4 linked regions of the Homo sapiens genome follow. The protein of the gene in region 1 purifies or fractionates together with the protein of each later gene. This does not show direct contact. Each region holds a gene or a part of one and is shown on either strand. Other genes may lie near its edges. The genes, in order: RNASE13, PPM1A, SUSD1 and CACNA2D2.

Region 1 (7,061 bases):
AAACAATAAACATCTGTGTGTGCAGCAGCCAAAATCTCTGTCTGTGAGGGACAGATGAGCCTACTAGTGTAGAGAGAGGGAGAAGAGGCAGCACAGGAGGGTGGGTTCTCCACCACACACCCTTCGCTCTGCTTAGCCTTATGCCTACCAGCCATCAGTTAGCATTCCTCCTCAACAGCTGCTTCCAAGAACAGGATGGAAGAATATATTTGGAGTAAAGAGATGAACCAGATGTGGAGGTAAAAGTATCTACTACTTGTGTTCACACATTACTGATATCCACCTCTCCACCCCCACCCCTCAAAAGGGTGTAGCAATTCCTCACGTGATGGACTATGACTATATCACATATTAGATCCTTCCCTGTCCCTCCACCTTCCTCATCTGTTGCAATTCAGGTTTTTTGGGTGGAGGAGTAGAAGCCAGCTAAGGTTGCCTGACTTCTATTACAAATTTGTTCCAGAGCTGGGGTAAGGGGAGAGTCTATTTTCAACACCCAGCCCAGAACTAAGTTTTACCCCACATCACCTCCATCATGGGGCACATGGGACAGAAGAGCTTACTGACTGCTAAGGGTAGCTCAGGAAGATGGCCAGATGAGGCAGGCTGCCAGGATTCCAAGAGCAGGAGTTCTGGTGCACTGAAGAAAAAGCAATTAAATCACAACAGAGTCAGATGTGTGTTATTAACTTTTTATTTTGAATTGATTATGGGTTGACAGGAAGTTACAAAAAATGGTACAGAGGGGGCTCGTGTGCCCTTCACCCAGTTTCCCCCAATGGTTACATCTTACATACTCAGATGTGGTTTTAGAAATTTATGTTCGATTAGAGCCGGGCCTGCCTCATTCGCTGCCTGGTCAGGGGCAGACTCTGGAGTCTGGGGGATTTGGGAGGAGCTTCTGGAAGAGAAGGGAAGCAGGAACCTCTGGGGAATGGGTGAGAGAAGATACCTTGAAATGCCAGTGAGCCAAGGTAAGAAGACTGGAAGAAAAAGAGGTTGGAAAAAGGAAGGCAGGGTGACTACGGTTGTTGGGAGTGTGGGGGAGACAGTCCTAGGCTCCATGGTAAGAGGAAGCAGGAGAGGACAGTTATATGAAGGGAGAAACCATGATTTCACAGAGAGAAGCAGGCTGGAAACTGGGGGTTGTGGGGAAGTGAGGCTAACATGAGTCTGAGGGCCTCAGGGAGGTTCCTATAGCTAGCCATATCCCCTGAGTAGGTGGGTGAGTGGAGGGAATTATAAGGGAACTGGGGGAGGCTGACATGAGAAGGCTGGTGGGGATGGGGAGGTGAGACTCGGAGCTGGTGCCTGTTGCCATGGTGTGAGCTGAGGCCCTGGGCCTCCATCCAGGACTTAGGATCTGGCCCAGTGGGTGGACAGTCACTGCCAACTGGACACAGTCAACTTCTTGGGTGGGTTTTACTGTCTCTGGGAGAGGAAGGATGATGAGGAGGTGGGGGCGAAGAGGGGGTAAACAAGCTGGAAAGAACCTAGAAGATAGCACCACTTTGCATGGTGATCAAAGCCCTGGACATTTTCGCACCCACCTGGTCTCTTGGGAGGGGACCCTGCCTGCCTCGTAAGTCAGGAAGGAAGTCTTGTTACAGGGATCAGAGTGTTGGAAATGGAGACAGCTGGCCTGTGGTGGTAGAGGTTGGGGAGTGGCTCAGGAATTAAATTCCCGAATAGAGACCAGCGATACCTATTGGATCAGCTTCATACTTGCGGGAGCAGAGTAGGTAGAGCTTCTGGTTGGTTAGGGTGCTATTGTAGTAGCAGCTAGTGGGTGGCTGTTGGTGGCTCAGGGAGCAGACCGTGATGGGGAGGGAATCCTGGGTGAGTGTGCAGTATTCATTGTAATTCTCACAGAAGCTGTCACTATACTTGCAGAACTTCTGGATGGCCTTCCAAGGGGCATGTATCACATAATGGATCTTTGGGCAATCTGAATTTTGCATCTTGCCTCGCATATAGGACATCAGACCATTACAATAGCCCCGGAAACCCTTTGGGTAGTTAACCCTGGGATAGTCAATGCTTAAGGTATAGAAGTTCCTGCTGCCAATCTGCATCTTGATGTCCATGACCAGAGTTGGCCCCAGAACAAGCTGGAGGAAAAGGAGCCGGGTCACAGCTGGTGCCATTCCTCCTGCTGGTAGAGTTAAGGTGGTTGGGGGCAGCAGTGGGCCTGAAGTGGCTGTCTGCCACATCCCAGAGCCTCCAGCATTCCCAACCCAACAGTACTTTAGAGATCATCTCACCCATAACCAAGTTCTCATGACCCAGAAAGAGGAGATGCTTGCCCAAGGCCACCCAGACAACCAGCCACCTTCAGCCAGCCCTGCTCCCCTGGTCCACCACAGAATCTCAGCCTCTGCAGAGTCCGTGAGCTACATTTGCAGAATAAGAGCTCTAACTGGTCCTTGGGTGAGAGACTCTTCCCAAGAGTCCTTGGGCCCCTGGCACTCCTGCTAGTAAAAAATGCAGAGAAGAAAGAAGGAGCAGGCTGACCTGACAATTCTCTGGCAGCTGGGAGGAAGGACAGGAGCTGAAGATAGCTGGGTAGGGACGTGTATTCTTCTTGCCAAGGCCAAGACAGTCAAGAGATGAGGAGAGGCTAGAAAGGTTTCTAGGTAAAAATCAGTCTGGGAGGAGGGAATGTCCCCGAGTTTGATGAGCCCCTGTGCTAAGAGGGTTGGATGGGTGGGAGGAAAGAGGCATTACTATCTGGTCTCCTCCTCTACAGTGTCATTGGAACACTTACTTCCAATCTCCTTGCCAAAAGTTCCTAAGTGCCTGGGCTTTCTTTGATGTTTTCTCTGTTCCATAGCCTGTGCTCTCGTGGCAAGGTGAGTAGGAAAGCACTGTTATGTTTCTGAGGAACAAAGTGCTTCTTATTCCTGACCCTCAGAGAACAGAGCATTCGCCACTTTGTCATCCCACTCACGGGAGCCCAGGAGGGCATGTACTCAGGGGCCTCCCACCAAAGTGCTGGGCTGAGAATCAAAGACCTCCATGTGGACTCCCCACGGTCCCTATCAGCCTTACTCCTGTCACACCCACAGCCTTCACCTGTGACCTCAGGCCCTGTCAGAGTTTGAGCACTACTGGAAATCTCTGCATGCTGACTCTGAAGCCTCAAACTTGGCAGTTTGGATTTGAAAGCATAACCTGAACATGAAAAGCTGTGGATGCCAGAGCCTGGCATGATCCGTTTCGTACTGTTGGTTGATCTCTGAGTGGTTTGCCATGCTGGGGAAAGGGCCACGCTCCTATCTTTTTCATCAACATCTTCCCTTTCATCAGAATCAAAGAGCCAGCTCCCTGGAAACTGCTAGCTCTTGCCCTTGACTTCCACAGGTCACTCAGCCTTGTTAGTCTGCAAGGTGTCTTCCAGATTTGGGGCCTCCTCTTAGGAGAGCCTTTTTACCTTTGCTGGGCAGCAGAAAAGGGGAGTCAGAACACAGAAAGCTGAGTGCTCCAACACCCTCAGTATAGCTCAGGAGGAGGGAGTAAGGCCGCAGAGAGAAAGATTGGTGTTCCTCATGTAGAGCCCCCTAAACTGGCACTTTCTGACAGCACAAACCACAGTCCAAAATGGAATCCATCCTCCCCATAACTTGTTTCTCTTCCTGTTTTGTCAACTCAGTTTCCCTGGTTACCTATGCAAGAAACCTGAAAGTGATCCTAGACCCCTCCACCTCCCCAATCCCAGCTACGGGGAGGCGGTCCTGCATGGTGGTTAAGATCAAGGCTTTTGAGTGAAACAGACCAGGAATTGAATCCTGCCTCTGCAGCTTACAAACTGCACACCATCTATCTGTTTACGAAACCACTGAAAGCTTCCTTGTTTCATCTGTTCATGAGGATAGTATTTTTTACCTCACGGCAGTATGAGGATCCATTAAGATGTATATCAAGAGTTTTTAGACCAGTGCCCGGCACATGGTGAGTCCTCAGTATGAGCCTGAGTCCATCAGTCACACAGCCCTGACAATCTTAAACTTTTCCCAAGCCCATCTCTTCCATTCTTATTTCTTCCTCAGTGGATGCTCTCGTCTCGCCTGGACAGCACACACACTCCAACTCCAGTAAGACTCAACTCAAATATATCTCTTATACAACTTCAAGAGAAAAAGTGTGATCCCTTCTTTCGTCTAAAAGTCTGCAATAGCTTGTTTCTCATAGGGTAGGGGTGCCCAGTCTTTTGGCTTCCCTGGGCCACATTGGAAGAAGAATTGTCTTGGGCCGCACATAAAATACACTATCACTAACGATAGCTGATGAGCTTAAAACATGCAAAAAAATTCATAATGTTTTAAGAAAGTTTACGAATTTGTGTTGGGCTGCATTCAAAGCCATCCTGGGCCACATGTGACCCGCGGGCCATGGGTTGGACAAGCTTGTCGTAGGGTATAGTCCAAACTACATCTCACAGGACATAAGACTTCCCATGATCTTGCACCTGCCCATGTGTACAACTGCATCTGCATCCCTGCCTGCTTCCCACCTTGTCCCCCACCTCCTCTATGCCCTATCTGCTGCTGTCTCCTCTACCTGGAACCCTGCTGCTGCACCGTTCCTCGCCCCCATCTATTCCATGGTGCTAGCTCATAGAAAGACTCAACCCAGAGGTCCCACTTAGAAAGCCTCTGCTGGGAAGACCTCGCCAAGGAAGTGGGCACCGTCAAGCAAGTGAGGATAGAGCCCACATGGGCAGGTGGCTCATCTGTATTCTTCAGGCTGCTCAACAAGACAACACTGAGCGGGTGCCAATGCAGGGTGTCGCCTGAGCCTGGCTGACTCAGGCCTTTGCTTTGAGGAAGCCAACCACATTGTGGTCCCTGCCTTGAATCATGCCACCTCTTCCCTGGTCCCTCAAGGCTGCAGCTTCCCTGAGAATAGAAAGGGACTTTTTATACCTTTTGTTCTTCCTCTTCCTTCATTCCCCAGCCACCCATCACCGCTCTTCGCTCCCCCCACCCAACACCACTCACTTCTGCCGCACAATTACAGAAACTGAACAGCACATTATAGAGGAAAGCATTCAGGACTTAAATGATTTAATGATGATGAGCCTTCGGCTTCCCAACTGCAATCCTGGTGATCTGTTCCCTAAAATCCTGTCCTAGAGGTGCTGATGCATAAGATTACTTCATCCATTCTGACAACCTCATCATGGTGTCATGTGCTCCGTAAGCCTGAGATTAGTGGGATTGTTACCCCATTACACCGGGTTTTACATACACAAGCATTTCCCTAGGGATGAAAAACTAAGTTCTAGAGTGACAGTGGCTTGCTCAAGGTCATATGTCTAATTCAGTAGTTCCAGGGACAATTGGATAATGTCTGGAGACATTTTTGGTTGTCACAACCAGGAGTTGCTACTGGCCTGTGGCCAGGGATATTGCTGAACATCCCACATTTCACAGGACAGCTCCCATAACAAAGAATTATCCAGACCAAGATGTAAATAACACTGAGGTTGTGAAGCCCTGGTCTAAATAATTAGCTAATCAAATTTCTTAACCAAAGCAGACTTACTTGTATCTTATGTATTAAAAAAATGATAAACATCTGGGACATCAAAATATTTTTGTTAAACAAATGTTGATTGTAATGGTGCTGATTCTACCAGAAAAATGTGTATTGATAGTTCACCATTGAAACAATAACTGAGTTGTTTTTCCTGTAAAGATGACCCTCTGCATGTAATCATTTACACATTCTCTCCCTTCCCTCCCCAATGGTAAGCATTTATAGAACAACTGGCTAGGGTGGCAGGTGCAAGGGTGACTCCCTATGACTGAGGAGAACCCCAAAATTTTGCTCTGAGTGGGCTCACCATGATCTCATTGGCATTATCTTTTGCCCTGTCCAATTCAAGTTGCTCAAACAATATACTGTGTCATGGACAGTTCCTGGGCTGTCCTTGAACCTGAAGGATTGCCTCAGCCATCTCAACCTTCTTCTCATAGCATCACCTCAAACCCAGGGCTGAAGTCTAGAAGCCGCATTGTCACTTCCTCATCTGTTAACCATCTCTGTGGGCTGGAGGCAATCCCACCTCAGACTGGGATCATTCAGGAGCAGACGGAATGCCTTCTAAAAGTTGAATCAGTTAGGGTCACTTATATGCAAGGCATTATGCTATATACTGTGAAATGTGCAAAAGAAATGTAACGGGTGGTCCTCATCTTGTGGGAATTGACAGTCTAAGAGAAAAATAATACATACACATGAAGAAATAACCAGTGATTCAAGGCAGAAAATTATACATTCTGAAGACAGTAAATGCTGTAGGAATTTAGAGGTGAGAAAGATGTCTCTGAATTGGGAGGGTCAGAGAAAGTTTTCCTGAAGGGTCACCCTGGCTTGGAAATGGATCTCATGGTGAAGTTAGAAGTTCAGTGGAGATAAAGAGGATTATGAAAGACATGCTTGAAAAATGGGGGGAAACCGGTCTGGCTGGGGTTGAGGCACTCAGTGGGAGAAAAATCAGAGATAAAGTTAGAAAGACAGGTTTGCCCGATTGTGACAGACCCTGATTACCAGGCTAAGGAAATGATACTTTGCTCTGTAGATAAATGGGGAGCTGGGAGGGCTTGTGAGACAAGGCCCCAGTGAACCCCCAAATCAGTTTCCTCTTTCCTCCATCCTGGCTTGTCTAAACGCATTGGTCTGGGAGCCAAGGATTCCAAATTTCTGTCAGTGCTGCCTCCTCCTGACCCACAGCTGTTCCAGGAAAGGTCATGGGAATTCAAGGACCTGAAGAAAGTCCCACATCTGACCTCAACTTGCTGTATGTTTCACTTTCTCAGTCTACAAAAATGAGCCCATTACCTTTATTTATCAAAGGACCAACAAAATTAGGATAACAGAACTTGGATCTGCTTTTGCTTGGAAGGGAACTCTCACGGGCTTTCCATTGGTATCCAGAGGCTGTGTGGAACTCCGGAAGGCAGAGAGGCTTGGCTCTGAAGGGTAGGCACCAATCCAGGCCCGGCCCTCCTCTCTCCCTTCCCCCTTCACTCCCTCCCAGCACAGGCGAGAGGAAG
Region 2 (7,382 bases), about 39 Mb from region 1:
ATTCAACGAATTTGTCTCCTTACTGTTACCAAGGGTCTTGGAATTTTTATATTTTAAATTAATCATTCAATATAAGTTATTTATAGGTATAGTACAATTTTAAAATATTTAGAATGCTACAATCATTGGTTCAAACTATTGATTCATGGGAAAATTTAAATTCATAAGAATAATATGTATAGGGATAAGTTGATATTTAATGTATTGGCACTTTAACTTGGGCAGACATGTTTTCTTATTGGTTTAAAGAAGTAATAAGTATTTTAATATTTTTACTATGAAATGGGATCCAATTTTAGAAATGAATTGCTACTTTTCTCTTTAGTGTGTACACTTTAAGTTTTAGATGGAATTATGAAATATTCACTTTACGTTATTTTGTTACAATAATAAGTTTTATATTTCTTATTATCAAGCAAGAGTTGCCACCTGGACAGAGTTTACATTGATACTCAATATTTTTGATATGTTAAAGTGTTATTATACTTGTACCATTCAATTGGAGATTGTCATAAATTAAATATGGTATTTTTTACTCAGATTTGATGAGACTGCAACTAGAGAATAAATATTACATTAAAATTGCTGCTATTTTAAAACATAGAATGTAACTGTTTGTATTGTAAAAGTTGTGTGTCCTCAGTGAAAAATACTGCCTTCAGCTTCCAAAGCAGGCACCTGAATGCCTTTTTCTTTTCTCTCTCTCTTCTTTCTTTAAATACATGCCTTCACTAGATTGCTGTGACCTACTAAACCTCATTTTATTTGCTTGGAACATTTTTGGCTTCTCTGTCCACACCATAGAAAAGGACAAAGGCCTTCCAGCTCTCCTTTTCTCTTATTTGTTCCCTTCTAAATACTTGACTCTCTGGGGGTGTGAAAAGATTCAGCTCATAATTTATACTACTATTAATTTTGTGGTCCTTCTAAGCCAATTTAAAATTATACTTTTGTGTATATATTTTCAAAATCTTTGCTACTGACTACCTTAGCTTTAAAGTTGCTAATTTGGAGATGACTGATAGAATCCCTGAAACTTGGTGGAGGGGAGTGGAAAGGAGCAGAATGTGTTTGTGTATATGTATGTGAAACATGGATCTTCTATATATAAATATTCTTTAGAAAAAGCGTTCAGTCTTTTTACAATTCTAAGTAAAACGTATAGGTCAACAGAAATTAAAGGAATATTTCTTAAAATTCATTTATTTTTCTTTTTTGAAAGCAGACAGAAGCAAGGCTAGTATAGTATGAATGGTCAGGTAGTTTAAATGCGTTGTCCCACGTGGAACAGGAGATATTAACTGTTTTTAAAGCTTTACATTATTTTTTTACAAGAATTTGTTTTCCTGTAATTTTCTTCACAGTTAAAATATCCTAATTTATATTTTAACAAAAGAGATGTAAGATACATCAAATATAGATGATTCAAGGTAATGTTTTTTAGACCTGAAACTATTGATTCAATTTATCATCAGTGTTTATTTCTATTGTATCTAGTTATCTATCCAAATAATTGTATTGGCTTAGCGGAGACTGTATGTTAAGTGTATTAGTTTTAGATTGTGAAATTGTGCAGTTTAGGTAAACATCAAATCCCTTTATTTTTGTACAGCAGATTTCCAGCATTAGAACCATGTAGAACAAATATACTAGATGTTAAAGATTACACAATAAAGGAACTTGGCAAACCAAATCTGAGATCCTTGCTTTTTGTTCAGATTTAAGACTGTTTTTTTTTTTAAGGCAAAAAATAATAGATGGTAAAAATTTGGCCTTTATTCTAAAAGGACAGTTTGAACCATTTAAAGAAATATTATGGGTAGCCATGTCTTTAAAAATTTTGAGGCCTGATCAAAGGACGAATCTTTATACACATTGTTATTTTCAAAGGTATTTACAAATTGAGAAGCAGAATGATGATTTCTTGCCCCACTAATGACAAATAAAATACCATTTCTTACCATAAACATTGAAAAACAAACTGAACAAAACTTGACCATATAACTTACAAATACTTTTGACTTGAATTTGCATGTGGAGTATGTGTGCTAAAACTGCAAGTGAAGACTTTTTATACTTAGAGGAATAGTTGTAGAGTTCTTTGTAAGGTTCTTTGTTCATAATTTTTTATATTTTGTGATGTGAATAATAGTATGCATCTGCATGACAACACTGCAGATCATATTGCTGTGCCCTTTTAATAACTGGATATTTTAAAATTATTTTAAATGCAGTTGTATGGTTTATCAAATGGTTCTCTTTTTAAACATTTTATAAGGAAATTTAGACCTTTTCTATTCAAGGCTTTGTTGAAGTAATCAGTGAAGGAAATGGTATTATATATCTATACAGTATATTGTTTAAAGGTACTTTAGAGAAGAATTAAACTGAGACAGTGATGTTCAAGTACATAATCTGTGCATGCTATTTAAGTATCATTTTGCAAATATAAATATATACATAAAAATAATTGAGTTAGTATATAATCTATAAATTCCCCTATAATTAAGGGTTGTTATTTTCAAATCTTGAAATTGTTTATTTTTTAAAATTCCACGCAGTGTATTATATAGGGCAAAGTTCAGGAAACATGTTTCCAGTCTAAAGAGAGGAGTGATGTAAGAAGAAACTAGTTGACATCTTAAGAAAGGGTATTCTCACTTGTGCACACATATCCTTGATTATATAATATGCTGATTTAACATGAAATATTTTTTCACATTTTAATTTTGATTTGAAGTTAATCTTATATGTCATTTTGTGCATTTTTTGTCATAAATCTTCAAAGGTCAACCTGATTTTTTTTTTTTTTAAATGATACCAGATTAGAAAAATCTCAGATGTGGTAAATGCCATCTTTAAAAAGCTAGGTTATCTTTGTTTCGGTTTTCTTTTCAATTAAATTTGGATAACACTTACAAAAAAAGTACTTCTGATTCCCAGAAATCATAAAGAAGCAGGGGGAAGGCGTCCCCGACTTAGTCCATGTGATGCGCACATTAGCGAGTGAGAACATCCCCAGCCTCCCACCAGGGGGTGAATTGGCAAGCAAGTAAGTTACATTCTGTACACTCTTATGCTTTATGTCAGTGTATGAAAATGTTAGGTATTCATTGATAAAATGTTTGTTTGCCTAATTTCTGAACTGATGCAGTTATCTGTGTTTTAACCTGTGATTTCAATTTTTTTTTAGTATTAGAATATCTAGAGTTTGTTTAGACATAGGTATCAGTATCATTGTAACTAATTGCAGTGAGGGTTGTCTTTATTGGAAGCTTGGTTGGCATTGATTTCCTCATAGAGCATAAACGAGATAATATACTGAAAGAACTTTTTAAACTAAATTACATAGCACTACATAAAAATTTACAAAATTCTAAGTGTCGTTGTTAGTAGTAGTATAATTTGATTTGGTCAATCCCTGAGTAACTTAACACCCTGAAAATTCCCCTTCCTCATATGGACCATGTTTCTATGCCTGATTTTCCCAGTATTTTTGGTTGTTGATTGCTGGTTAGTTGGTTTTAGGTGTCAGGGAAGAAGATAGAATATATTTCTTGTCTTTTCCCTTTCCACTTTAGTTCATAGAATTGGACTACTTTGTGTTAAATATTAAGCTTACACCTTTACATAATAAAGTGGAAAATTCAAGCAATTCCAAGGGTTAAAACATTTTTACCTCAAATATCCATATAATTGACTTACAAACATAAAACTTGCAAATACCTTTAGCTTGAATTTGGATATAGAGTAAATGTGCTAAAACTACAAGTGAAGACTTCTTGTACTTACAGTGAAGATATATTATTGACTAATTTTCTCGATTCTCTACTGTGTTTTGCAAGTGTGACCATGTTCTTTGTAATCACTAAATAGTGATTGTAAAAGCTCCTGTTTGAAGCTTTTATTTTTTGGAAACTTTTTTTTTCCATATGACTTTCTATGAAACGATCTATAAAATTGCTTCAAGTCAATTTTGGAAGTAGGGAGACTATAACTTATAAATATACTACAGATTTTTAATAAAGTGTTACTCAAAACTAATTCCTAGACTTGTCATGGAAATGTCTTATTTGACATTTCAGTTTTAATAGAACTTTTGAAAAGGGCATTAAGAAAAGTAGAAGCTTAAATATAAAGTATAATCTGAGACTTCAAAACTACGATGCAACTCAACTAGCTTATGTTAGTATTATATCTTAAGAATGGCATTGCCATTGATGACTCATAACCATTTAAACCAATTCAAATGGAAGTAGACTATATAGACTTTTTTTTTAATCTGTAATTTTTAGCCTTCTATTAACTGGGTTGGTAGAGTGTTATAACACATTTTAGAGTAGACTCACCTCTGCTTTAACATAGGAGCCCAAATATCTTAAAAGTGAGGCTCACTATTGACAGCAAGAAATAGAACTAAAATAATATCTGAGTATAAGATTATCTTAGAAATTTTAATAAACACCTGGCTATGAGTTACTAAGCAATGTTTTGCTTTCTGAAGAATTAATTTTCTGCATTTTTTTACACTTAGGAGGAATGTTATTGAAGCCGTTTACAATAGACTGAATCCTTACAAAAATGACGACACTGTAAGTAGCATTTTAGCTCCCTCTGCTTTCCCTTCCCCTCCACTCTAAATGCATATCCTTCCTACCTGTTTTTGCAGAGCTGTTCACTGTACCCATTCTCTTACACACACCCCTGATTGATTGCTCTGAACTCTGCTTGCTCTGATCTCTGCCTGCACCACAGTTCTAGTGATTGAGGACATAATCATGGTGAGTGGCCACCTCTCTCAAAAAAGAAGAAAGTCCTTTTGAATTATTCTAGATTTTTTAAGTCTTTACAAACAATCAACTTCAGAAGGTTTGCCTCCACTACATGGTTTTTTTTTTTTTTTTTTCCCGAAGTTGGGACTATCTCTACTCAGAATATTGTCTTATTCTGAGTTTTGTAAGCAGCTGCAGCAGAACTTCGGAATGTCTGTCTCAACTAAATAGTTCTTATGGTTGGAAATACCTTTGTCAGGAATCCTGAAGTATATACTTCACTTAAATATTAGAGAATTGTTTGCATAAATAGACATTAGAATGCCATACTCTCCAGTTAAGTGTTCTGTTGCAATTCTGTTGTATGATGTTTATAGAAAAGTGATAACTTAAAGATCATGTGGGCACAGCTCTGAAATATTTTATGTATTGCATTATGAAGCTTCCTCACATATTGAGTTCTTAATCTTTTCTGATGCATTAAAGGTTTATAAAAGTGGTATTCTAAAACTGTATTGGATTTCATTAAAAAATTCTTTTTAGTAGATTTATTGATTGAGTAATACATTTGGACAGCCTCATCATAAAACCGCATTTCAAATATTTTCCAAAACAAAACAAAGGATTAACAATTCTTTGAACAGATTAAACATTGCTATTTCATATGTACACATATATACTTATATACTTTAAAAAACATTTATATTCTAAAAGTCATCTTTACAGAACATTATCTTTCTCCATTATCCAGAAAGTATGGTGTATTTTGGCACCGCTAAATTTTAACGTTGTTCCTTATTTTGCTTCCTTTTACAAAGGACTCTACATCAACAGATGATATGTGGTAAAACTGCTCATCTAGCCATGGAGTTTACCTTCACCTCCAAAGGAGAGTACAGCTCAACTTTGTTGAAACTTTTAACATCCATCCTCAACTTTAAGGAAGGGGATATGACATGGGTGAGAATGATTACATCAGAGAACTTCAGCAGTACAACAGCTAGCCCAGAACTGATTTTTTTTTTTTTTTTTGTAAATTTGAGACTTATGTAAGCGTGATTTCAAACCATAATTCGTGTTGTAAATCAGACTCCAGCAATTTTTGTTGTATGATTTTGTTTTTTTGTAAAGTGTAATTGTCCTTGTACAAAATGCTCATATTTAATTATGAACTGCTTTAAATCACTATCAAAGTTACAAGAAATGTTTGGCTTATTGTGTGATGCAACAGATATATAGCCCTTTCAAGTCATGTTGTGTTTGGACTTGGGGTTGGAACAGGGAGAGCAGCAGCCATGTCAGCTACACGCTCAAATGTGCAGATGATTATGGAAAATAACCTCAAAATCTTACAAAGCTGAACATCCAAGGAGTTATTGAAAACTATCTTAAATGTTCTTGGTAGGGGAGTTGGCATTGTTGATAAAGCCAGTCCCTTCATTTAACTGTCTTTCAGGATGTTCCTTCGTTGTTTCCATGAGTATTGCAGGTAATAATACAGTGTATTCATAAGAATCTCAATCTTGGGGCTAAATGCCTTGTTTCTTTGCACCTCTTTTCAAGTCCTTACATTTAATTACTAATTGATAAGCAGCAGCTTCCTACATATAGTAGGAAACTGCCACATTTTTGCTATCATGATTGGCTGGGCCTGCTGCTGTTCCTAGTAAGATATTCTGAATTCCATTTTATCAATAAAGCTTGATTTAACAAACAAGAAACTTAATCATGTATGTGTAATTCCTCTTTTACCCTGGCCTTTTAAAACACTGTGCCGTTGTAATGAGACGTTTCTCATAGGGAAAGATGTTAGTCTCTTTTAATTGGACAACACTGTCACTCAAGGCATAGATGAAACTTTCCTTCCATTAGAAAGACTAAAAGATTTAATTCTTGGTTGTACCTTAATCTATTTTTTAAATAGGTTTCTTTCAGGCTGCTTATTTTTCATTAAGATGTGTATCAGCTTGGATTTGCCTACTGTTTAATTAAAATATTTATTGTCAAAGTTTGACAATCTAACACTCTATGGTAGGGGTGTGTGTGTGTGTGTTTGTGAGTGTGTGTTTGCCTGTGATTTTTAATTGGCCCATGTCTTTAGAATCCAAGTGGTTAAGATGTATTTGTGATTTGAAATATAGCATGTTGATAATATTTAGCTGTTGGCCTTTACAAATAACTTTCAAAGCTTAAGGAATTGTAGATATAAAAATAACCTAATTTAATTTAGGCTTAAATTCCTCTGATTAAGCATGTGAAAGTAAGTTTTAAAATCTGTCGCATTGAAAAGATTACTGTTCCGTGCCCTTCTGTATTTTTGTCTCTTTAGGTTGAATATTGTATTTATCACCATGTAATCATTCAGTAGGCAGATTCCCACTAGAAAACTGTTGAAATGTAAGACTAAAATACAACATTGAATACAAAATCAAAATTTTGTGTATAAAAACCAGTATAGTCCATTTTGTTATATTTGTTTTTTCCCTAACTTGGAAATATACATATTTGTATATATAGCCTTAAAATTAATGTAAAGTTAGGGGAGTAGTGGGGAAAGTAATGTGAAATGTCTCAGATTTAAGTAGTTAAATACCAGCAAAATCTTTTCAT
Region 3 (7,382 bases), on another chromosome or scaffold:
TAACTCTCTCTCTTGTCTTTTAGAAGTTGATCTCTTAGAAGATGATGGAAGTTTCAATATTTCAATATTTAATGAAACTTGTTTGAAATTGAACAGGCGTTCTAGGAAAGTTGGATCAGAACACATGTACCAAGTAAGGAGATCTCTTATGCTTTCCATTAAAGAATTGTGTCATTTAAAAATTTGGGCGATCTCCAAGTAAGTATCCAAAGTATTTAAAAATGAATGAACTTCTAGACAGTTTGTGATTGTTGTTTCTAGAGATGGATGTAAGATGTGAGATGGGTGTAAATGAGGTACTAACTTGAAGAAAGATACTATATTTGGTGACTTGCTATCATTTTCTGTGCCTGGCATTTCAAGCTTATATTTTATTTTAATGCATTAAACAATACAGCTTATTTTGCTATCAGATTCACATTTGGGCATGGAATTTATTTTTATTTTTTATTTTTATTTTTTGAGACTGAGTTTCGCTCTTGTTGCCCAGGCTGGAGTGCAGTGGCATGATCTCGGCTCACTGCAATCTCTGCCTCCGGGGTTCAAGCGATTCTCTTGCGTCAGCCTTCCTGAGTAGCTGGGATTGCAGGCATGAGCCACCACGCCCAGCTAATTTTGTATTTTTAGTAGAGATGGGGTTTCTCCATGTTGGTCAGGCTGGTCTCAAACTCCCAGCCTCAGATGATCTGCCCTCCTCGGCCTCCCAAAGTGCTAGGATTACAGGCGTGAGCCACCACGCCCAGCTGGGCATGGAATTTTAAGGAACTCTTTGGATGGCTATTGACCCTCATTTAACTTGATTTTTTCTTAAACATCATCAGTAAAATTGTAAGTAAATTCAGGCAGGAACTGAGATTTATTTTGTGTCATTTTTAGTGCCTAGCAAGTCATCTGGTAGAGAGCAAACTCAGTAAGTATTACATTAAAAAAATTTTTTTTTCTTTTTTGAGACCGAGTCTTGCTCTGTTACCCAGGTTGGAGTGCAGGGAGGCGATCTTGGCTCACTGCGACCTCCACCTTCCAAATTCAAGCGACTCTCGTGCCTCAGCCTCCCAAGTAGCTGAGATTATAGGTGTGCACCACTATGCCCTGCTGATTTTTGTATTTTTATTAGAGATGTCGTGTCACCATATTGGCTAGGCTGGTCTCAAACTCCTGACCTCAAGTGATCCACCCGCCTCAGCTTCCCTAGGTGCTGGGATTACAGGTGTGAGCCACCGCGCCCAGGCCAAAATTAATTAATTTATTCTATTTACCAGAAGTATATCACATATTAGGACTTGGAAGTTTCCAATTCAAACTGATAGAAATATATAGGTAAATAGGCAACTACAATATGGTATAATGAGTGCTTTGACAAAAAGTAAATTAATAATGGAATAATAAAAGTAAATAAGTATAAAAATAGAGATTTTATTTGTGTGTGTGTGTGTGTGTGTGTGTGTGTGTGTCCAGGTACAATTTTTTTGTTTTTTTTGAGATGGAGTCTTGCTCTGTCGTCCAGGCTGGAGTACAGTGGCATGATCTTGGCTCACTGCAGCCTCCCTCTCCCAGGTTCAAGCAATTCTCCTGCCTCAGCCTCCCTAGTAGCTGGGATTCCAGGCATGCCCCACCATGCCCAGCTAATTTTTGTATTTTTGGTAAAGATGGGGTTTTGCCATGTTGGCCAGGCTGGTCTCAAACACCTGACCTCAGGTGATCCAGCTGCCTTGGCTTCCCAAAGTGCTGGGATTACAGGTGTGAGCTACTTGCCAGGCCAGGTACAATTTTTTTAACCAGAAGCAAAGACTGTTATACTGAGTCATAGAAAGTAAGTAGGAATTGGCCAGGCGTGGTGGCTCACGCCTGTAATCCCAGCACTCTGGGAGGCCAAGGCGGGTGGATCACGAGGTCAGGAGATCGAGACCATCCTGGCTAACACGGTGAAACCCCATCTCTACTAAAAATACAAAAAATTAGCCAGGCGTGGTGGCGGGCACCTGTAGTCCCAGCTACTTGGGAGGCTGAGGCAGGAGAATGGTGTAAACCTGGGAGGTGGAGCTTGCAGTGAGCCAAGATCGCACCACTGTACTCCAGCCTGGGCGACAGAGCAAGACTCCGTCTAAAAAAACAACAACAAAAAAATTAGATAAAGGTTAATTTGTGTGACATGTGAAACACTTTTAAATTGACTGGAAAAAAGTCAATATTTAAAAGCGGTTTGCTAAAGAAAATAGACGTATTGCCTAAACACGCATGAACACATTATGCCTCACTAGTAAGTGGTCCAGAAGAATAGGGGACTGCCAGACCGTGGAGGAGCAGCTCTGACGATAGCATAGTCTAGGTTGTGGCCATGGATATGGGTGGCCAAAGTGGAGTGAAGGAAGTTCATAGCATTGAGCTCAAAGAACTCTGAGGCCAACATTTGATGGTTTATCTGTAAGGACCTTTAAGTTATCCAAGAGAATTCAAAGAGTTTGAGAGAGAAGAATCCTTATGAACCACCTGTCAGGGTCTTGGATGACTGTCAAAATTGATAAGAGAAGAGTTAGTGATTGATGGGAATAAGGAGGGATTGAGGGTGGTATAGACAATGGTGCTAGCATCAGTGGCAACACCGAGCATATGTCTCCACCAGCTAATGCACCCTAACTGATCAAGGGCTGATCATATTACTTATAGGACCTTCACGAAAGTTTTTTCCCTATAATTCCCTGCTGGAGCTGGCAGTGCGTAGAGGATGGTTAGGTGACAGTGTGTGATATGACTCCATGGATCAAAAGCCCTTTTACCAGAGGTCTAATAGGAAGGGTCCAGTGAAGTACCATGGCATTTGCTTTGAATGCATAATCTGGGGTGGTCCCCATATGTTTTTGTTTTTTTTTTCTTCCATGGGTAGGGTTAAGGAACCCACCTAGTTTAAGTACTCTGTTCTATGAGGCTTGTCCATGGATTTCTTACAATGAAAAGAAACTAAAAGAATTTTGGTTGGGTGCAATGGCTCACACTTGTAATCCCAGCACTTTGGGAGGCTGAGGTGGGCTTGAGGCCAAGAGTTTGAGACCAGCCTGGGCAACAAAGTAAGATCCTGTCTTTACAAATTAATTGTAAAAATAATTACCCAGGTGTGGTGGTGCATGCCTGTAGTTCCAACTACTCGGGAGGCTGAGGATCACTTCAGTCCAGGAGTTTGAGATTGCTGTGAACTAAGATTGTGCCACTGCACTCCAGCCTGGGTGACAGAACAAGACCCTGTCTCAGAAAAGAGACAGAGAGAGAGAGAGAGAGAGAGAGAGAGAGAGAGAGAGAGAACGAAGTATTCAGAAGGGAAGGAGGAAAAAAAATAATTTTGCCCATTAGCTCCAATGTAATCTCTTTCACTTGCGTTATAATCAAGGGATTATTTTGGAATAGACTAATATTTTCTTCATCTGAGATGTAGTTATGCATATTAAGCTTGGTCCTATACCTGATTGTGAGGACAGGTAAGGTAGCTTTGTCAAGTCCTTCCTCAGGTTAGCTTGCTATTGTCTTAAAAGTAATTCTAAGTGGGCAAGGATAAATAAAAGGAACTTTCTTGTTTTAACTCCATTTTGCTAATAGTCTAGGCACCTGTTAGTCAATGGAAAATCTAATGTAACACTTTCTTTTAATCTCATGACAGTTTACCGTTCTGGGTCAGAGGTGGTATCTGGCTAACTTTTCTCATGCAACATCGTTTAACTTCACAACGAGGGAACAAGTGCCTGTAGTGTGTTTGGATCTGTACCCTACGACTGATTATACGGTGAATGTGACCCTGCTGAGATCTCCTAAGCGGCACTCAGTGCAAATAACAATAGCAACTCCCCCAGCAGGTGGGTGTAGACGTCTTTCTTTTTTGTGCCTCAGGACAAATTACCTATGTGAATTGAGCAGTGTGGGCGGGCATAAGAGTGCTAGTTTGGGAGTCAAGAGACAGGGGTTCCAGTTCTAACAAACTTTGTTAGCTGCGTCTGGGGTTCAGGATGCCTGAATCTTACCACTTATCCCCTTCCCTGAAGGGTACTGGCTCATAGAGGGCACAGACCAAGGATAGACTGATTTATTCAGAGCTCCCTGGGAGTCCTAAGTTGAGAATTCCATAAAGCATTTTATCTCTCACCCCAAATTTAAGACAACTGAACCCTAAGGGTATTCATTATCGGCAAGTAGAACGAACTTCCAGGAGACCAGAAACGTGGGTCCCACAGTGTCAGGCACTGGCAGGCAATACAGCCTCAGGACTAGGCCACGCATAAGCAAATTAACTTGACATAGAGAACAGAGGCCTGATTAAGGTCAGGCTCCTTAGAAATTCTTCCCTTGCAGTCTTTTGAGGAAGCCACATAGGTGCCAGCTGTATTAACTCCACAGCTCCCCCTAGTGGGATGGCTGTGGTGCAGCCATCACTACTATTTCTTTTGTTCTTTAATCCTGTGGGTTTATCAGACAAATTTACGGGCAACCAGAAGAGGCTACCCCTTTGAAGGAAAGCAGCAGAAGAGGGTAGGTCCTGCTGCTACCTCCCTGAAGCCGCTCTGTGATATTCACCTCTGCTCTTTGTGGGTCAGGGTGGGCAGTTTGGCCTTTGCATTTAGAAGACTCTGGGCCGGGTGCGGTGGCTCACGACTGTAATCCCAGCACTTTGGGAGGCCGAGGCTGGCAGATCACCTGAGGTCAGGAGTTCGAGACTAGCCTGGCTAACATGATGAAACCCTGATTCTACCAAAAATACAAAAAATTAGCTGGGCATGGTGGTGTGTGCCTGTAATCCCAGCTACTCGGGAGGCTGAGGCAAGAGAATCACTGAACCCGGGAGGCAGAGGTTGCAGTGAGCCGAGATTGCGCCATTGCACTCTAGCTTGGGCAACAAGAGCCAAACTCCATCTCAAAAAAAAAAAAAAAAAAAAGACTCTGAAATGTGTTAGACACTCATGAGAGCCACGTAGCACCTGAGGCTGAAAATTAATTTTTTTTTTTTGAGATGGAGTCTCGCTCTGTCACCCAGGCTGGAGGGCCAGGTGCCATCTTGGCTCACTGTAACCTCCACCTCCTGGGCTCAAGTGATCCTCCTGCCTCAGCCTCTTGAGTAGCTGGGACTACAGGCGCATACCACCATGCCCAGCTAATTTTTGTATTTTTAGTAGATACAGGGTTTCACCATGTTGGCCAGGCTGTTCTCGAACTCCTGACCTCAAGTGAGGTCTTCCAATTCAGCCTCCCAAAGTGCTGGGATTACAAGTGTGAGCCACCGTGTCTGGCTTCAGTTTTTATCCTATTTTTTTTATCAGATTGAGCCTGGCACCTTGTCCTGTCTGTATCAGCAGAGTTTGCACAAGGAGCACCTCATGACATCATAAACCTACCCCCCAACACATTTTCAGCTGCATAGTAATGCTCGCAAATTGAATATGAATTCCCTCCAATTATTAAATTCTTAGAGAAATAAAAATCTATAAATAAAATCTAGCTGGGTGCAGTAGCTCACGTCTAATTCCAGCACTATGGGAGGCCAAGGCGGGTGGATTGCTTGAGCTCAGGAGTTTGAGACCAGCCTGGGCAACATAGTGAAACTCTGTCTCTATAAACAATACAAAAATTAGCTGGGTGTGGTGGCATAAGCCTGTGGTCCCAGCTACTTGGGAGGCTGAGGTGGGAGAATCTCTTGAGTCTAGGAGGTTGAGGCTGCAGGGAGCCGAGATTGCGCCACTGCACTTCAGCCTGGGCAATAGAGCAAGATCTCCTCAGATAAAGAAATAAGAATAAATAAATCCACCTCTCCTTGTAAAATAAACTAAAATGTAAAGGCATGAAGTCCCCAGTTTTTTCTATCCTACATCTTTTCTGCTGAGTCTTGGCCAGAGTGTCCTGCTGAGTGGAGAGTGTGTTCTAGCTGTTGAAACCTAGGAATCTTGTTTTGTAATAGATGCTACTCCTTTGGTGTATAGGAGACTGGCAAATGCTGAGGTTTTGAGGCAGGCACATACTTGGCATATTCTAGGAATGTCATGGAAACCAGTATGGCTGGAGCAGAGAGCTGGGGACAGTGGTGAGAGATGAGGTCTAAACTCTAGCATGAGTATAATAAATGAGAGGCCCATGGTGTCAGGTTCAGAAAGAAGCCTGTTGTTACCTTCTCCTTTGCCTCCCTAAATTACTAGTAGTAAGTATAATGTAGCATGCCATAGTTCAGCCTCTGTAGGTTACCAAGCAGTCTGGAGTCTACCACGTGTCAATTTAAACTTAAATTGGGAAATGTCTTCTCGTCAGGGTAGTTGGATTCATTTTGACACTGTACTCTCCTTGAAAATTTTAGACATTTGCAGTGGTGGCTCTAGGTCTTTCTTGATGCCCGTTCCAAAGATTAAAACCTTTCCATTTTCGTTGCTCCCTTGAGCCCTATTTCTACCCAAGCTTCACCATTGCTGAAGATCTTTATCTGTTTAGTGAAAGAGTCTCCCTTCTTTCTGGGCAGGACACCCCACATTTATCTTAGGAAACTCTTCAAGTGAAATGCATCATCTTGCATGCTTCCTTCCCTGTCTCCATTTCTGACTCTTTTCTCTGAATTTCTCTAAACCCAGAAAGATCCCCCAAATTGTTTTAGTTCTGGACTCCACAGGCTCCTATTATTGAATGTCTGCCTGTGAGTCCTACTTCCTGGTTAGGAGATTTTCCCTTTTGTCTCCCATGGGGAATTACCCTCAGCTGATCTGTGAGCTGCTGTTGGGTTTCCAGAACCTGAACTTTCACTGGTCTGATGAGGTCCAGGAAACCCCCTGGGCTAGTGGCATTTCGCCCAAGCCCTACCTTCTTGGAATTGAATTTCCAAGACTTAAATGGTCGGTGCTTCTTTGATGGAAACTGAAACACTTCTTGCTCCCGCTTCCTTTTCTGTATCAGAGAGATAAGCCTGCAATGTTCAAGGTCCCTCTGAGAACGTTCTTACTTAGCAGGTCCTGCTCAGCTCTAAGCCTTTACCCTTCCATTTAAGTTGTTTCTGTTCCGTCTTTATTGCCAGGTAGGACTCATACCTTTTGCTAGGTCTTAGTACTTTTCCTTCTCTATATTTGCTTTTTGTTTTCAGACTTAGATTTTTGTTCTCCTCACATATTACTTTGGAATCTGCCTCCGAGGTCTCTGTAGAGAAAGAATGATGTCACAGAGCTCTCGACCTGCCATAAACATCCAGTGTTAAAATACCTTCTTCCCACTTTCATTTTCACTAGGAGGCATTTCTTTCTATTCAGTTCGGCCTAAACCCAGGCCTGGGCTTTATCAATTTTCATTCTCCCTGGACCTTGTTTAATACAGCTCTATTTCCCAGGCAGATGTCCTTATAGCCGGTGCAATACCTGTTGCCCCATCTTACAAAAACA
Region 4 (7,860 bases), on another chromosome or scaffold:
GATGCTGACCCAGGTGTCCAGACTCAAAGCTCCACACTCTGATCTGCACTAACCACTGGGCAGGCAGCCTCAGGCAAGTCTCCTCCCTTTTCTGGGCCTCAGTTTCCCCTCTTTCTAATGAGGAGGTCCTATAGGTTCTGACTGTTTATGACCTGGGACTTGGCCCTAACTTTAATGTGCAGGTAGTGACAGCTTGCAATGTCTGAAAGGGTTAAACTCCAGCCCCCTCCATATATTATGGTAAATGGTACTAAACTGACCATCGGTTGATATTGCGCCAAGGATCCTTGAAAAATTATTGACGTGTCCAGAGGTAGGGTCCTGTCTGATTGCATCTGGAGGCCACTGAGCATCTGTACCATGCTCAGACAGGGGCATTTTGGGGAACATTGCATCCCTGGGTATCCCCAAGGAACTGATGAGCGAGCCATGGCAGCCACTGGCAGGTGCAAGTGCTGGTAGTCCCCCATACGTGGAATGAATCCCAGCTGGGGGCCCTTGGGGACCAACAAGTCCAGCACAAAGCAGGCAGAGAATAGGTACCTTAGAGTGGGCTGGATGAGGCAGGGACAGCAGAACACTGGCCAAGGCTGGGGCCAGCTCAACGGACCCAGGTGGAGGCAGAGCTGGGTAAACAGGGCTCAGAAGGGAAAATGTTGGCTCAAGTCATGCTCACCCAAAAGAATGTCCCCTCCTCCTCTCCCTAATGTGCCCATCCCAACCTATTCAACTTGCAAGACTGAGCTGAAATCCCTCCCCCTTTTCCAGGAATATTTCCCTGTCTGCCTGCATACACGGCCTGCCCTTCTTGGGGATGGCTGAGTCTGTTGTCTCCCCTTCGCTAAGCCCTTGCTGAAGTACCAAGTCTTCCCTCAGGGTGTTAGATGCTTTGGGTCTTCAGACCATCCCTGCCACATGGGGGTGTCTCCCACTATATGGATGAAGAAATGGGCTTGCAGAGGCAAAATCACTTGCTTACACAACCTGTGATGTCTGATGTCAAAGCTGACACACCTCATGCCCAGGCCAGACCACCCTTCCTGGGCACATCCCTGGGCTCCCTTGACATGCCATCAAATGATTCTTTGTTTTTGTTTGTTTGTTTTGAGACAAAGTCTTGCTCTGTCACCCAGGCTGGAGTGCAATGGTGCGATCTCGGCTCATGGTAACCTCCATCTCCCAAGTTCAAGCGATTCTCATGCCTCAGCCTCCTGAGCAGCTGGGACTACAGGCGCCGGCCACCACAGCTGGCTAATTTTTTTTTTTTTTTTTTGTATTTTTGGTAGAGATGGAGTTTCGTTATGTTGGCCAGGCTGCTCTTGAACTCCTGACCTCAGGTGATCCACCCACCTCGGCTTCCCATAATGCTAGGGATTACAGGCATGAGCCACCATGCCTGGCCCCAAATGACTCTATATGTTAATACTTCCTGTGCCCTCCCATGGCTAAGCACTGCATGAGGCTTGGAAGGGGTGACAAGGACTAGGGAGCCTCAGGGCTCCGCTCGACAAGAGTCCAGAATGGGCTGGGCGTGGTGGCTCATGCCTGTAATCCCAGCACTTTGGGAGGCCAAGGCGGGCGGATCATGAAGTCAGGAGTTCAAGACCATCTTGGCCAAGATGGCGAAACCCCGTCTCTACTGAAAATACAAAAATTAGCTGGGTGCGGTGGCACGTGCCTGTAATCCCAGTTACTGAGGAGGCTGAGGCAGGAGAATCACTTGAACCAGGGAGTTGGAGGTTGCAGTGAGCCGAGATCATGCCATTGCACTTCAGCCTGGCGACAGAGTGAGACACTGTCTCAAAAAAAAGAGGCCAGAGTGCAGGTGTGTTTCTGAACCCAAGGCAGAGGCCACAGCATACTACTGGCCGGGGCAGGAAGCAGGAGGGACAGGACCAAGAGGAGGAGGCCCATCCAGTTGGGGGTGGTAGTACCCCAGGAAGGCTTCCTGGTATAAGTGGTATTAATGGGCTCATAAATATCTTGAGTTCAAATGGTAGAGGTAAAAGAGGGTGTTCCAGGCAGGAGGAACTGCAGGAGTAAAGCCCGAGGCAGGAGTTTTCTCTGAATAAGGAGCTGTCCAGCCTGTTGGTAAAAGGTGAGACTGGGCGCGGGGCAGGCTAGGGTGAAAATCTTGCCACCACAGGCGTCCTGGATGTTCCTGATGGGCTTCCTCTGAAAGGGCCACAAGCTGTGGAGTCAAGGTTGACACCAGCCCCAGTATTCTCCCCACAGCAGGGAAGAGCCAGGGGCCTCCAGGACAGAAAGGACTAGGGTGTGCAGAGATGACCTTCCTGGCTCTGGAAGAATCTAAATAGAGGCTGTGCAAACCCCGGGAGCTGGGGCTTGGGACGGGCCTCGAGTGGCACAACTGAGCCCATGGCCTGCTTGGCACATAGTAGTTTCTCCCTATGGCTCTATCAGTCTCTTCTGACCTGCTGAGCTGACCTCCCATGCAGAACTGGCACCTACCAGGCCCCCTGTCAGGGTAGCTTCACCTGCCCCTGCCACCCTACGTCTTCCAGCACAGGCAACTTGGGCCAGGTGGGCAGCCCCACATTTACCAATGTGCCTGCCATGGAAGTCCCCCTATTCCTTGGGAAGGCTCAAATTTTTCTCCCAAGATCTTAACGTGTGGCTGTAGCCAGCCACCAAGAGGGCTGAGGATGTTGTAAGCCTCAAAAGTTATAATTCGTAAACACTTACCACTTGTTTACTCTTAATTACCCCCCCCCTCCTTATTTGTCTTCCTTTAACGGCCTGTCAACCAAAATCTCCCGCCTTTCCCTTGGTGCCAGCAGCCTCAATTAGATGCACATCTGTGGAGGCTAGAACTGAAATACCCAACTGCCAAAACCCACCCACTGTACCTAGACTGACTTCATGTGCCTGACGGCCTGGGCACTTTGGGGATAGCGTTGCTACCCTGGTGTTGGAGGGCAGGGAGGCTGGCCCTCACATTTCTCAGGCCACTGCAGAGTCTGCCTTGGGAAGGCGCCCACCCCCGACAGGGCACCCAAGAGGAATGATGTCCTTTATGATGGTCCCCTGGGGCCATGGGCACAGGTATTATATGTCCAGCAAACAGGTAAGAGAGGATATCACAGGCCAGCCCTACCTTGGGCATGAGGAAGACAGAGATGCTGGGAACAGGTCTCAGCAGGCAGGGCTGGGAAGGCAGCTGTTGAGCTCACGCTTGTCGACTCCTGAGCAGGACCCCTGCCCCCCTGCCCTCCCATTGTGTCCAGAGGTGGCAGGGGGGCAACTGGCTCAGTGAGGACCCTGCTTGTCCCCCCAAAGAGCTGGACTATCGTCTCCCATAGTCCATCAGGTCCCACCTGTCCACCAGGCCCCTGGCCCCTGCGTTGCCTTCCTCTGATACTTTTTTTGGGGTCTCATGGTTTGGGATCTGCTGGCAAACCTGTCTGGCCCCTGAAGGCTCATTCAGGTCAAGGGAGGAGGACACTTCAAGAAATGAAGGAAACTGTTCCCTGTCAAGCCCTGGTTTGCTGGGATTGGAGAAGCCAAGGCAGGACTAGGCAGCAAGGGAAGGCTGTCCTAGGCCCTATTTCCAGCCCCTACCCCTACCCTTTTCAGTCCAGGGGCTACTATTCCCTTTCAACTGCAAGCCCTCCTTGGGCTGACTTGTGAGTGGGTGATAGGAGAGCCACTGATACCATGAGGTGGGGCATCTGGACATTTCCGAACCATCCTGCCCAGCTGGTTACTATCCCTCATTCCTCGTGATAGGCCAGGTCTGTGGGCAGTTATTGCTGAGGGGGTCCTGCCCTGTGTCAAGTTGGTGGGGAGCATTCTCTCATCCTATCTGCACCAGAGGCAGAGCTGGGTTCCAGGGTAACTTCAGTAGAATCCTAGGGATGGTCTCCCCTCATTGTGAATGCTTCAGTTTACCAAGAGATTCTCCCCATTCTCACTTCATCCTGGAAATGGGAGTGGGCACCCACACAAGCATTCACAAGCGAGGACACTGAGGCTCTGAAAGGGCCACAAGCTGTGGAGTCAAGGTTGACACCAGCCCCAGTCTTCTGCCCACAGCAGGGAAGAGCCAGGGGCCTCCAGGACAGAAAGGACTGGGTTGTGCAGAGATGAGCTTCCTGGCTCTGGAAGAATCTAAACAGAGGCTGTGCAAACTCCGGGAACTGGGGCTTGGGACAGGCCTGCACACAGTGCCTGTTCAGCCCAGGGAAGCGAAGCGAGTGGCTGCAGAGGGCTGCATCCTGCCGTCCCCAGCCCCCCACAACCGTACAGCCGTGCCCAGGTTTCCGCTTAGGGAACCAGGAGGTCCAGGCCCTTTCTGCCAGCAGCCGGGCGTGCAAGCCCCCGACAGAGAGAAATCTTAAAGATAGCTAGAGCCACGGGGGCTGTAAGTTCAGCATGCCTCCTTTTCTGGTCTCCGCTGAAGCTGTCACTCCACCATTAAACCTGTGACTCTAGGCCTTAAGCCTGTTGAAGGTCGAGCCCCCAAAAGGGTCACATATGCTCCTGCCTTGGGCCGCGGGGCCCGGGACTCTTCCCGCGGGTGGGGTGGGGAGGAGCGGCAGGGTCTGAGGTGTGGGGGCGGGGGCGCACCCGGGGCGCTCGGGTAGCAGCTGGGGCGCAGGACGCCCGAGCCAGTAGGGCAGGATTCGGGCTGCGCGGGGACGAGAGGCGCGCGGGCACGGGTGGGCGCGTGGCCGCGGCGGGGGCGCGCGGGGGCGGGCCAGCCCGGGAAGAGAGAGGGAGGGAGGGAGAGAAGAGGGCGGTGCCGGCAGGTTGGCGGCGGCTGCTATTTGAGCGCAGGTCCCGGGCCGGGCGCTCAGAGCGCTTGGAGCCAGCGCTGCAGGGAGATAGCAGCGCGCAGCCCGCAGAGGCGCTGCGGCCCGTGCAGCCCCGGAGGCCCCTCGCGGAGAAGGCGGCGGCGGAGGAGAGGCCGAGTTACCGCCCGCCGCCCGCGCCCCCCCAACCCCGCCGCCGCCGCCGCCGCCGCCACTGCCCCCCCTCCCCGCGGCGCCGCATCTTGAATGGAAACATGGCGGTGCCGGCTCGGACCTGCGGCGCCTCTCGGCCCGGCCCAGCGCGGACTGCGCGCCCCTGGCCCGGCTGCGGCCCCCACCCTGGCCCCGGCACCCGGCGCCCGACGTCCGGGCCCCCGCGCCCGCTGTGGCTGCTGCTGCCGCTTCTACCGCTGCTCGCCGCCCCCGGCGCCTCTGCCTACAGCTTCCCCCAGCAGCACACGTAAGTGGCCTCGGCCGGCCGCGAGACCCCGGCCGAGCCTTGCGCCCCGCTCTGCCCCCGGTCCGCGCTACTCCTTCCCTGCGCTCCGCGCCAGGGCAGAGGCGCTGGGTCCGGCTGCCCGCTGCGCCCGGGGGCGACGGCCCCAAGCCCCGAAGGCTGGCAGCCGCGGTCCCGGCGCTCTGGCTGCGTCGCGAAACTTCCCCGCGGTGCCCCTGCTTCCCCCAAATCCCCCGAATGAGGCAAGGCAAGATCTTCAAGCCCCGGGAGGAGTTGGGGGGGGGCGGTCCGAGCTTGTCAGCTGATTCCCCTGCCGCTGACCCGGTGAGAGGGAAACCCGGGTTGGGTGAGAGGGGCGGCCAGCGACCCCTGTCCGGCGGAGTTGGAGCCGCGCATCTGCCCCACGTTCCCTCCCTGGTGGGAATCCGGCGCTTTACAGCCAGAGGTGAGGGACATCTCCACACCTGCCTTCAAGGGCCTTTTCCTTTAGTGGGGAGCTGTATGCTGATGATGCGAGCACCTTCTTGCTGTGGCCAGTGCCACAGAGGCAGTGTCCCCTGTTCTTGGCCCCCCTCCACCTGAGGAGAGAGTACCCTGGAGAGCCCAGTTGGGAGGTGAAGGCGTTGGGGTCCGGGCAGAAGGTGAATGGTGGGAAGGACCCCTGCCTGCGCCTGCTGCTGCTGCCAACAGAGTAATAGCTTCTCCTGGCTCTGCCAGCCTCCGCAGGTTTTTTGGTCCTTCTGAGCCTTCTCCTCCTCCCCAAGAGCCAGCAAACTCGGGCTGCCTCCTACGGGTGAGCTTAGCCAGATGTGTCTGGGGCTGGGAGTGGATGTTCAGTGCATGTGGCCTTTAGGACGTATCAGTTTCCTGACACTGTGCTTCAGCCCTATGTCAGTGCCCAGACCCCCTTTGGGGCACGGTGACCACCTTGCTTCTGTTATCTGTCTCCGGGTCTGAGGAGCCACCTGTCCCTGGACTCCTTCACCAGTGTCCTGGCCTGGAGACTGGGGCATGAGTCGTCGGGCTGCTGGTGGCCAAGGGGAAGGGTCTGGCCTCGGGGAAAGGGAGAGGCTGGCTCTGCGTCATTTAAACCAGCTCTGCCCAAGGGTAAGAGCCCCTGGTTCTGCCACAAAACCTGCCGACTCCAGTTCGTAGGCTCTCTAAGATGAGGGAAAAACAAACTCAGGAAAACCGCCTCTCTGGGTCTCTCTCTCCGTCTTGTCGTCTCTCTCATTGCACAGCCTGGCTGTGCTCAGGCAGGTGATCAGTTGGCAAATTACAAGTGCCGCACGGACGTGTCCTCTGTCAACCGTCTGGATTTTTCACATGTGTGTTTGGGGGTTGCCCAGGGAGAAAAGAATCGAATGGAAGTTCAGGGCTGGTGGATGCGTTATTGTCTTTCATTTGCCGTGATGGAAATGGACTTCAATCATAGTGCTTAAAAAAAGCAAAAGCATTATTTTTTTGTTGTTCTTTCTTCCTCAAAGCCAAGCACGAGCCAAGCCACAATTATTTTTTTCTTAGCCGTTTCATAGCTCCTTGAGTGAAGGTTTAAGTGGATGTCTCTTTCCACCTCTCCCGACCTCACTCCCTTTCCCTGCAACGTGCAGTTGGTCAGATGGCTTCTGGGCCTGCACGAGTCTCCTCTAGAAGGCCGATGTGAGAACCTGACCAGAGTAGGCACCTATCCCTCTGTCCCCAGCCAGAAGATGGCGAGGCGGGTGTGACGGCAGCGACACACTTCCAGCTGGACGCTGTTGTCGATATAGTTGGAGCTAATTTGGGGGTTTGGGACATGTCTTGCAAACTGTAATTAGAGAATGAGGGTGGGGGTGGGGTGGGGGCTGTGCCGCTCTGAGGGTCCAGGGGGAGGTGACTAATGGTACAACAACACAGAGGGTTTGCTGTGACAGCCAGTGCCCTTCAGCTGCCCTGGTCCCGCAGACGAGGATGCACATTGATCCTTGGAGGGAGGAAGGGGCCCACACATGACCATGGCCAGTGGAATTGGTGCTTTTGTTGAACTGGTAAGAAAGGTTTAGGCTGTTGTTCGGGCCAGAAGGTTCTGTGGGGCTGCTCAGGGATGGGTGACCTCCCAGAACCTTCTGCTGGGTCAGTGTGGCCAGGCTGGGATGACACTTTGATACAGGTGGATTTCCAAGGAGGAGAGTGGAACCCAGCTTCATGGCACTGGAGTGACAACCCCTCAGTGGGGAAGGCCCCTGATGAGCAAGTCATTTTCTCATTAGTGTCTGCCAGTGCACAGGGGCCCAGCTTCACAAGCTGCTGGATTTTAAGCAAGTGTGGGTTTGGGGTCTGCTAGCTATGATTTCTGCAATCGCTCTGGCAGCATGGCTCTCTGCCCACCAGGCAAAATGGACCAAGGCTGCTGCTGGATTGAGAAGGGCAGAGGGGTTACTGCTGAAGGGAGGACAGGGCTTCAGGGTTTTTTTTTGGGCGGGGGGTGGGGGGGTTGGGCTGTCTCACCTTACCTGGACCTGGATCAGAGTTTCAAACAAGGAGGAGGCTACATGTTTGCACACATGTATGCACATGTATGTGCACTTGTCCGGCTGGGTGTGGGGGACCTGAGTCCGAGCACACCTTTCACCTGCCTCCTTTTTCCAG

What was found.
Region 2: the proteins of RNASE13 (region 1) and PPM1A purify together in Homo sapiens (affinity purification with mass spectrometry; 3 studies listed by BioGRID and IntAct, with this or other methods). This does not show direct contact.
Region 3: the proteins of RNASE13 (region 1) and SUSD1 purify together in Homo sapiens (affinity purification with mass spectrometry; 3 studies listed by BioGRID and IntAct, with this or other methods). This does not show direct contact.
Region 4: the proteins of RNASE13 (region 1) and CACNA2D2 purify together in Homo sapiens (affinity purification with mass spectrometry; 3 studies listed by BioGRID and IntAct, with this or other methods). This does not show direct contact.

What each region holds. Positions count from the first base shown.
Region 1 is NC_000014.9:21,032,142-21,039,202, forward strand, and holds RNASE13 (probable inactive ribonuclease-like protein 13 precursor), read right to left. Parts: upstream 2,667-7,061; 5' UTR 2,515-2,666; intron 2,156-2,514; 5' UTR 2,148-2,155; coding exon 1,677-2,147; 3' UTR 677-1,676; downstream 1-676. UniProt on the Homo sapiens protein: Does not exhibit any ribonuclease activity.
Region 2 is NC_000014.9:60,286,863-60,294,244, forward strand, and holds part of PPM1A (protein phosphatase 1A), read left to right. Parts: exon of another isoform or gene 1-1,693; intron 1,694-2,943; coding exon 2,944-3,052; intron 3,053-4,534; coding exon 4,535-4,592; intron 4,593-5,590; coding exon 5,591-5,620; 3' UTR 5,621-7,382. UniProt on the Homo sapiens protein: Enzyme with a broad specificity. Negatively regulates TGF-beta signaling through dephosphorylating SMAD2 and SMAD3, resulting in their dissociation from SMAD4, nuclear export of the SMADs and termination of the TGF-beta-mediated signaling.
Region 3 is NC_000009.12:112,094,927-112,102,308, reverse strand, and holds part of SUSD1 (sushi domain-containing protein 1 isoform 2 precursor), read left to right. Parts: intron 1-23; coding exon 24-133; intron 134-3,646; coding exon 3,647-3,839; intron 3,840-7,382.
Region 4 is NC_000003.12:50,500,593-50,508,452, reverse strand, and holds the start of CACNA2D2 (voltage-dependent calcium channel subunit alpha-2/delta-2 isoform b precursor), read left to right. Parts: upstream 1-4,818; 5' UTR 4,819-5,029; coding exon 5,030-5,235; intron 5,236-7,860. UniProt on the Homo sapiens protein: The alpha-2/delta subunit of voltage-dependent calcium channels regulates calcium current density and activation/inactivation kinetics of the calcium channel.